Linked DNA regions of Homo sapiens: regions 2 and 3 are each reported to be linked to region 1. The links are microRNA targets in miRTarBase. Many come from high-throughput screens and were not tested one by one. Region 1 holds a microRNA gene; each other region holds the end of a gene's coding sequence.
The links. The annotated mature microRNA hsa-miR-4473 reads CUAGUGCUCUCCGUUACAAGUA and lies in region 1 at 1,473-1,494, shown strand. An mRNA with a match to its seed (bases 2 to 7 or 8) in the 3' UTR can be bound and repressed. Matches are read on the target gene's strand: a 7mer-m8 pairs with bases 2 to 8, a 7mer-A1 pairs with bases 2 to 7 and ends in A, and an 8mer does both.

Region 1 (3,000 bases):
ATCTTAGAACACTTTTCTTTCTGTCCCTTGGGCTGCCCACAGATGTCTCTAGTTTAAATGCTGGCAAAGGCTAGGAGGGCATAGTAGCAGATTTGCTGTGCCGGGTTTGTACTGTTCTGGGTAGAAAGCCAGTCAGGGTCAGGACATGGTGCTGACACTGATCCCCAGTGGTCCACAGATCTCCCTACTCTCTATAGCTAATCTCGAAATTTTGGTAGAAGATCAGATTAGGACAGTAGCATATAAAATACTGGACATTGGGAAAATTTGTTCCAGTATTTGGTAAAGGCTTTATAGTCATAATTTATGAAATGGAGATGAGAGTTGAATGTGTTTGTTCCAATAACTCAAGTATTTATTTTTCCTTCTTTGCTTCTTACCTTTCCTCTTAACTTGAAGCTTATTCTTAATGCAGATGTTACTTGGACCTTTTTTGTGTGTGTTTGACTTTTGTTTCCAATCACCCTGAAATGCTGTTGGGTTGTGATTATTCAATCAAAATTGTCAAATTTTGCAACTTTGCCATTTTATATTCTAACACATTGCAATTCTTCTAGTATAGAGGTTTTCAAATCATGGGTTGTGATTCACTAGTGAGCTGTGAAATAAATTTAACGTATCACTAGCATTAAAAAAATCAGAAAACTATAATTAGTATGGGTAAGTAATGGCTTATGAAAATTTTATTTCAGAGAAGGTGTGTGTGTTTCTTATAGTGGTCAAAATTTTGAAAGGCACCTTTTTAGAATGTTTGCCGATTTATGAGAAGACCAAATGGCGTTCATAAAGCATCATTGAAAGCTCTTTCTACATGAAACACAGATGGTCTTCCTCTTTAGGTAATTTTGTTTATTCTCCTTTTGTCTGCCTCTTGCTCCCTCCCATTTATATATGATTTATAAAGTATGTCTTCCTTTTAATAAAATTCTTGTTCAATTTGATGTATTTATTCAAAGTATACCTTGAAAAGTCTTCTGGAATGAAGAGTTAGAATTGGAAAACTTTACAGTAGGTAGTAAATTTTCAAAATGGTATATGACATATTAGAGCCACAAATCCAATGATTACAATAGTAGTTTTTGTAATGTACTCTGCATAGCATTGCTGAGAAAGCCTGTAAAGACTTTCAGGTACTATTTGTGTATAAAACCCAACAGCCGTACTTTCCTTATTAGTCTTCTGGTACTAGTAATGGCTTTATTGTTGTTGCTATTGGTTCAATACTTGAAAAGTAGGTAGCGTAACAGAAGAGAATTAACAAAAGTGATGTCATGTAAACCATGAACCCAAAGGCCTTTCTATGAGCAAAGGAAGGTGAGAGAGAATTGAAATTCCATTTATCCAGTAGAAAAGACAGGCTTTGTTTGGACTGTCTCCTACCTGTCCTACCTGGCATCCCTCCTGCCAGCAAGACAAAAGGAACAGGGGACACTTGTAATGGAGAACACTAAGCTATGGACTGCTATGGACTGCTAGTGCTCTCCGTTACAAGTATCCCCTGTTACCTTGGCTAGTAATTGACTTGGTGGCTTGGGGCAGGCCCAACTTCAGGGGTGACTGTGCACATTGTCCTAGTTGTGTGTCTGCCTCTGAGTAAGTGTGATTAGATGACCTGATCTCTCTAAGGTCCTTTCCAGCTTTATTAGTTGAATATGAGCCAGATTCGTATTCATTTGTGGGACATGGGGTGATGGGTGATTTTAGACATAATGGGCAGAGATCATGGACTTTGGAAACAGAAAAAAGACACAAATAAATCAGAAGAATTTGAAGTATAAGGAAGGCTGGGGAAAATGATTATTTGTCTAGTATGTCTATAAAGAAAACATCTCGCCTCAGTATAGGTCTTATAGTTTAAAAAGATGAACATTTTAAAGAACCTTTTCTAGAATCAAATTCTACTCAGGTTTTATATAAAAATGTCAGTAGTATTAAGATGGGTTAGGAAGCTTAGATTATTAATTGATATGGTCCTTTTTGGTAGGATTTTCATATCCTTTGTATGTGAGAAGAGAGAAAGAAGTTGGACATCCATGGTTTGTATGTCTGGCTGGTGTTTGAGGGATCGATCACTTATTTGTTGATAAGTGAAAGGTAGGTAGATAGGTAATTAGAATTCTGCTGTCTGGTGTCAGACAGGCTGTGTCTTAAATTTCAGTGCCACTAGGGATCTTGGGCAAATAATTTAACTTTCTCTGTTTCTTAGTTTCCTCTTTTATAAAATGGAGATCATAATAGTATCTTCTTTGTAGGATTATTGTTGAAAATTTAATAAATCAATGTGGGTGAAACGTTAACACACTAATAAAAAAAATGTAAGTTAGCTATTGCTATGTATGACTTGACTTCTGGGTACCTATATAACCTGTAGCTTTGAAAGAGATTTTTTCTCTTTCAAACTCAAGATTTTTTCTCTTGCAGAACTCTGGTGTCCTTTTTCAAGGTTGTGGGTTTATATGCTGCAATATTTGGTACTCTAAGCCACTTTGTTTTGAGTTTTGTCTTTTGTCACTTTGCTCTGAATTTTGTCGTCACAAGGTGTATGGTCTTGATGTTGATATGGTTCTGCTACATGATCAATGTAAAAATACAAGATAAAAAGTCTTAAGTTTTAAGCTGAAAGATAAGCCAAAGTGTCTCAGATCTTTCAGCTTTTTAATTAAATGAGATAAAGGACAAGAACATACCAAGTACTGCACTGGGTAGGCACTTGGTAGATTTTTGTTTTTTCATTTTTGTTTTCTGCTGTTGCTGTTAAAATATCCTAAGAAATGATTTATCTTTGAGTTACTGTTAATATAACTGAAAGAATAATTTTTAAATACATTTTGTGATTATTGAAATGTTTCTCATAAAGAGATGTAATACTGTCACATGAAAGTTTGTCAACAAATTTCCCCTACAGAAGAATTTGGTAGGGGCTTGGATAAGGTAGACAGGCAGAAGGACTGTGTTATAGTGGGTGAGCATTTAGCAAATACAGAAAGCATGATAGGGGAA
Region 2 (3,355 bases), not on the chromosome of region 1:
ATTTGAAACACTTAAAAATCACAGTTATTAAAACAATAAAGGATTGGTACAAAAAGAGAAAAGCAGATCAACAGAAGAAAATACAGTGTAGAAACATACCCAAATAATATGGAAATGTACTATGTAAGTTCCATTTCAAATTAGTAAGGAAAGGATTTATTATTTAATAAATAGCTTTGTGAAAACTAGGTAGTCATCTGGAAAAAAGATAGTGAAGCCCTAAATTCAGGAGAGATCAATGATTTAAATGTAAAAAAAACAAATAACAGAAATGCTTGATCTTACTTTTAATATTCAAACTCTAATGATGTATTATTTCCCTTTGAGAAAAGGTACAGAAAATGTATGCATAGTTATGTTACAATTTGCATTACTATATATGGTACTGATATGCCTATGTACATATATGGTTATTTCTAGAGAGATATACAAGAATCTGGTACTGATATGTGTCTCTTTCAAGTGAACTAAAAGATGGGTGTTGGGATAGAAGAGGAATTTACATTTTACTGTTTGAACCAGGATGATGTATTAGTTAATTAAAATAATAAATTAAAACATATGCTAGAAAACCAAAACCCTTGTACTTGATAATATATTAGTACTAGGGCATAAAAGATTATTTGGTAACCCAAATTCTGCCAGTAGAATATATTATAGGGGTCTAAAATGTATGTGAAAACAATTTAAAAAGAGAACTGATTGTGTTACTGCATCTTGTGAGATACGTCAATTAAAAGGCAGTTTAATCAATTAAACTCTCTCATCTTGTGAGATACATCAATTGAAGGGCAATCTCAAGCAAAATAATATTCAAGTCCTTAGAAAATTTTACCCTCGAGTACTGGTAAAAGCTACTACTTTACTATAAAGTAGTTAAGGAATGATCTCCTTCTAATCATTTTTATTCTAGATATATTGCATATTTTATGGCCTGAATTTGTATATGCACCAAAATTCAACAAATAAAGAACAGCTTTGATTTAAAAAGTACCTCAAGGCAATAAAAAAAATCATTTTAATTTTTGATACATATTAAAACATCTTAGTCAGTTCCTCCTGACAGCATTAACACAGACAAATACACAAGACTTCAAACATGCTTTAAAATGACATTCAGCAAAGTACTTAAAATTTAATAAATAGCAAATCACACACAGATACATTTTTCATAATCATTAAACTACTAAAACAGACAGTTAAAGAATAAATAAACCGCAACTGACAGTAAAAAAAATATGTTGGGTTTTGCAATTCACACTACTTAAAAAGGGGGGATGATCTGAATGATTTCTTAATTTTCTTTTGAGAGTGTAGCATGATCCCCCCCAGGAATAAAATATATTGAAAAAATCACTCTTACAACAATGTATTTTTTAAATACAACAAATAAATATGAAACCAGCAAAGCAATTTCAAGTTGTAATAAAAATGTCCCCCGCCCCCAGCCAAAAGCTATGGAAATATATAGTTGCTGTGGTAGCAAATAATAGTATTTAAAGTGATAGTGCTTGTGCACTAAGCTCATCTGAGACCTTGATATAATTTTAGTGCAAATCCCTAGGGTCCAATGCAAGCGCAACCCTGTATTAGGGAAAGACATTACCAGGTGGAACTTATCTTGTACAATTTTTGTACATGTTTTATAAAGTTCAAGATTTAATGCATAGTAGAATATCTTCATCCACTTAATTCTGTTGCTAAATAGAGATGAAAAAAGAAATGACTTGGGATTTTACCATTTGGTTTGTACCATGTTAGAGTATTAAAGTCAACATTAGAAAATCTTTATAAAAGAGTTTTGTTTTTGCCAGTAATTTATCGAACTCTGCCTAAATTTCACATGATTGTATGTTAAACGTAAGAGAAAAATTTTTAGACAGTTTGTTTCCCACTGACAAGTTCATATGATAATGAAATCCAATAATAGACAAATGTCAAACAAATGAAAACGCAGGTGAGTATAAGGGTTTTTTTTTTGTACATTAACAACCTTAACATCTAGTATATTAAGTTACAAGATGTGTTGGCAAAAGCATAAACGTTTCAATTAAAATAAGGTATTATTTTGTAAAAACAAACCATTTAACATAGGATAGATAAAAATGACAATCAAATGAGTTTCAGCAGCCACATTTCTACAGTGAACTACAGTATCAGGATGAAAACAATCAGAAACAAATGAAAGGACATTATTGAACAATATGAATATGTGATGCATTTTTAGCTGCTAAAATAGTAAACTCTAAGTTCATAGAGTTACAAGTTGTCGAATTTAACCATGCAGGCTAACATATAATAATAAGAAATCACCCTGCATTTTTTCTTTTTAAACTAAAACTAGTTTAACTGTAAAGTTACAAAATAATAAATGGATATTGCTCCAACTTGTATACAATCTCCCTTATGTGATTCGTACCTAACAAAGTAACAAAGCCTCATCATCACTCGTTTCGTTTTTCAGTGTTACTTCTAAGCAAGTGTCTGGTATCTGGGCAGTGTGGACAATACCACAGCGCTCACAGGGGCCATCTCGATTACTTGGCCTTACTCCAGGATTTGTTGCATTATATGGTTGTCTAAGCCCTTGTCCTTGATCTGAGGCAAGATCAAGAAGAGGTCTGGAGCAGTCATTCACATCAAAGTCTGAAGATCCATCAGAAATTGGAATTAGCATTTCAACATCATCATCATCTTCTCTTCCACTTACCCCATTATCAAGTTGTCTCAAAGGACTCTGGTTCTGACTTAGGGAACTTGATCGTCCTAATGTAAAACGTACCCAGCGTAGCCCCTGAGTCATACGACTGAGTGCACTTGTAAGCTGGTGACGTGCTGGACTCACACTTGGGGGTTCCACACTTGTCACATCCCTTCCATTATCTGCATGACCACCTCGGGTACTCTGAGTTGAGGAACTTGCACATGCTCCTACTGTCGCTTCTACTGCCGTTGTGGGAGGGACTTTTTGAGGCAAAGGAGCTGCAACCCCACCAGATGCTCCTGCCATATCTCTTCTCTCATTTTCTGTGTCTGTATCATCAGACTCCACGGAAAACAAACTTCTGTGAGTATGATTTCTCTCAGGTTCTCTACTGGTACTCTGACTAGGGACAACCTCATCTCCATCTGCTGAGACCAAAGCCAATGACCCAGAATGACGTGATCTTGCAAAATTAAAAATACGGTTCCAAATGTTGCTTGATCTGCCTGCCATAGGAAGCCTGACTGAAGTAAATCCAAGCTGAGATCGTACCGCTAGCCTCAGATTTTCCAAAACAGAAGCCTACAAAAATAAGAAAAGATCTTAAGATAGTTAACAACAAGGTACTAAGATAAAAAAAAAAAAAAACAC
Region 3 (3,355 bases), not on the chromosome of region 1:
TGGGTGAGTACAGGGTCTGAGCAGCTGGGGTGGATGGTGGGAGCCAGGTGCAGGAGTGTGGCCCTGAGCTGCCGGCTTTCCTGCAGGAGCCACCCTGGTGGTCATCGGCTCCCACGCTGCCTTCCACCAGATTGAGGCTGTGGACGGGGAGGAGCTGCAGATGGAACCCGTGTGAGGTGTCTTCTGGGACCTGCCGGCCTCCCGGGCCAGCTGCCCCACCCCTGCCCATGCCTGTCCTGCACGGCTCTGCTGCTCGGGCCCACAGCGCCGTCCCATCACAAGCCCGGGGAGGGATCCCGCCTTTGAAAATAAAGCTGTTATGGGTGTCATTCAGGAAATATTCCCCCAGCATCTTCTGTGGGTCTCTATGGGTGGAGCTGGGAATACTGCACAGAGCAGGGTTGGGGTGGAACCTGGGGTGTGGGCAAGACGATGACAAGGTAAACAGGTAAAATATTATGGGATGCCCAATGGTGGTGAGTGTTCAGGAGGAGAAAAGAGTTGAGAAGGACAGTGTGCCGGGGGTCCCCGAGACCACCCCCAGGTTTGATGGTTCTTTAGGACTCAGGAATCAGAGAGCACCCCAGGTTTGATGGTTCTCTGGGACTGGGGACTCAGTATGCAATTGCACTCACAGCTCTGATTTACTCTCATCAAAGGGTATGGAGCCAAGTCAGCCAAAAGGAAAGGTGCATGGAGTGAACTCGGGAAACCAGGCATGCACTTCCAGAGGCCACACCTAATTCCTCCAGCAGTGGATCATGGTGACGTGTGAAATGTCAGCCAGGGACACTCTGATCCTAGCCTCAGCGCCCTTGGTTTCATGGGGGCGGCCACAAGAGCACCTTCTCTCCAACATATACCAAAATGCCAGGCTCCCAGAAAGAAGGCCTGTGCCTGCACGAACAGCCTAGATAGATGCAGCAAGCCACTCTAGGCCTGCACGAACAGCCTAGATAGATGCAGCGAGCCACTCTATCAGGAAGTGATAAGACCCCCCCCCCAACACCCAAGTTCCCAGCCAAGGACCAACTGTGCACCCAGGCCTGTCTAAGGACAGCAGTCTGTTGTGGAGCCTGCCAGGTTAACTCTTTTCTGCACAGAGAAAGTTCGGGAATGAGTTGTGGGTTAAAGAGGGTGACCAGAAAAGGCCTCCCTGACGTGACATTCACCAAAGACCTAAATTGAGAGAGGGAGCAGCCCAGATCCTTTGGAGGAAGAATAATTGGGGCAGAGGAAGCCACAGGGGCATAGCCTGGGAGATGGCAGCAGCCAGGAGGCTCGAGGGCAGCCAGGAGGTGGGCGTGGCTGGGGCAGATAAGCGAGGGGGACAGTGTGGGAGGCCAGGGAGCCTTGTGGGCCACGGTGAGGGCTTTGGGTTTTACTCTGCTTGAGATGAAAGACACAGTTTGCTTTTGTGAGATGGATTTTGCTTTGTTTCCCAGGCTGGTCTCAAATTCCTGGGCTCAAGCGATTCTCCCCCTGCAGCCTCCCATAGTGCTGGGACTACTGGTGTGAGCCACTGTGTCCAGCCCAGTTTGCTTCTTGCCTTTTGTTTTTTTGAGACAGGGTCTCACTTTATGGCCCAGGCTGGAGTGCAGTGGTGTGACCACTGCTCACTGCAGCATCTACCTCTTGGGCTCAAGTGAGCCTCCCACCTCAGCCTCCTGAGCAGCTGGGACCACAGGTGCACGCCACCACACCCAGCTAATTTTTTTTAACTTTTCATTAGACAGGGTCTCACTATGTTGCCTGGCCTGGTTTCAAACTCCTGGGCTGAAGCAATCCTCCTGCCTCAGCCTCTCAAAGTTCTGGGATTACAGGCATGAGCCACCGTGCCGGGTCCAGTTTGCCTTTCATCATGAGGTGGAGACTGCCACGTGGTAGCAGTAACAAAAGAGAAACACACTTGGGAGGGAAAGTGCCAGGCAGATGAAGACAAGGGAGGTGGCCGAGAGGGCCTAAGAAGTGACTTGATTTTTTTATTTTTATTTATTTGTTTATTTTTTTGAGATGGAGTCTCTCTCTGTCGCCCACGCTGGAGAGCAATGGTGTGATTTCGGCTCACTGTAACCTCCACTTCCAAGATTCAAGCTATTCTCCTGCCTCAGCCTCCCAGGTAGCTGGGATTATAGGTGCCCACCAACACGCCTGACTAATTTTTGTATTTTTAGTTTTATTTTTTAATTTTTTTGAGATGGAGTTTCGCTCTTGTTGCCCATGCTGGAGTGCAATGGCGCGATCTCGACTCACTGCAACCTCCACCTCCCGGTTTCAAGTGATTCTCCTGCCTCAGCCTCCCGAGTAGCTGGGATTACAGGCGCCTGCCACCACGCCCGGCTGATTTTTTTGTATTTTTGGTAGAGACAGGGTTTCACTGTGTTGCCCAGGCTGGTCTCGAACTCCTGACCTCAGGTGATCCACCTGTCTTGGCCTCCCAAAGTGCTAGGATTACATGTGTGAGCCACCGTGCCCCGCCAATTACTTTAGATAGGGGTGGTCTGGGAGGGCTCTCTGAGGAGACACAAGAAGTGGGTGGAGTTTCCCAAGGAGAGGGACAGCGAGTGCCAAGGCCTCAGGGATGCAGCCTCTCCAACCTCGTGTCTCCTCAGCAGAACTCACCCACTCATCCTTGATGCAGCAGGTGCTCACCCAGAGCCCACTGATGCCCACTGTTCTGGAATTCTCCTGTCAGATATGGTGGCCAGCCATATGCGGCTGCCTCAAACATGGCTGGTCCAAACTGAGACATGCTATGAGTGTGAAATGCACACCAGACTTCGAAGATTTAGTATGAAAATGGAGTAAAATATCTCAATAATTTTTATAGGCTGGGCATGGTGGCTCACACCTGTAATCCCAGCACTATTGGGAGGCTGAGGCAGGCAGATCACTTGAGGCCAGGAGTTTTAGACCAGCCTGGCCAATATGGTGAAACCCTGTGTCTACTAAAAGTACAAAAATTGGCCTGGCGCGGTGGCTTACGCCTGTAATCCCAGCACTTTGGGAGGCCGAGGCAGGTGGATCACGAGGTCAGGAGTTCAAGACCAGCCTGGCCAAGATGGTGAGACCCCGTCTCTACTAAAAATACAAAAAAATTGGCCGGGCATGGTGGCGGTGCACTGTAATCCCAGCTACTTGGGAGGCTGAGGCAGAGAATTGCTTGAACCCAGGGGGCGGAGGTTGCAGTGAGCCAAGATCGCACCACTGCACCCCAGCCTAGGCAACAGAGCAGGACTCCATCTCAAAAAAAAAAAAAAAAAAATTGGCATGGTGGCACATGCCTATAATCCCAGCTACTTGGGAGGTTAAGGCAGGAGAATTGTTTGAACCTGGGACACAGAGGTTGCAGTGA

Region 2: miRTarBase lists LRP12 as a target of hsa-miR-4473. Seed matches in the 3' UTR shown: 7mer-A1 at 1,548-1,554 and 7mer-m8 at 1,506-1,512.
Region 3: the mRNA of RABAC1 is a reported target of hsa-miR-4473. The part of its 3' UTR that is shown has no 7-base or 8-base seed match.

The regions. Positions count from the first base shown.
Region 1 is chr9:20,409,655-20,412,654 of GRCh38, reverse strand. MIR4473 (microRNA 4473) reads left to right here and starts at 1,417; the gene lies at 1,417-1,507. The region is part of intron 5 of MLLT3 (MLLT3 super elongation complex subunit); the gene reads left to right.
Region 2 is chr8:104,488,254-104,491,608 of GRCh38, forward strand. It overlaps LRP12 (LDL receptor related protein 12), which reads right to left. Exons shown (of 7, transcript NM_013437.5): 7 at 983-3,286. The coding sequence ends at 2,420. Among named protein-coding and RNA genes, the nearest start is that of MIR548A3, 5.5 kb to the left of the region's middle.
Region 3 is chr19:41,953,666-41,957,020 of GRCh38, reverse strand. RABAC1 (Rab acceptor 1) reads left to right here. Exons shown (of 5, transcript NM_006423.3): 4 at 1-3; 5 at 87-338. The coding sequence ends at 175. Among named protein-coding and RNA genes, the nearest start is that of RABAC1, 4.0 kb to the left of the region's middle.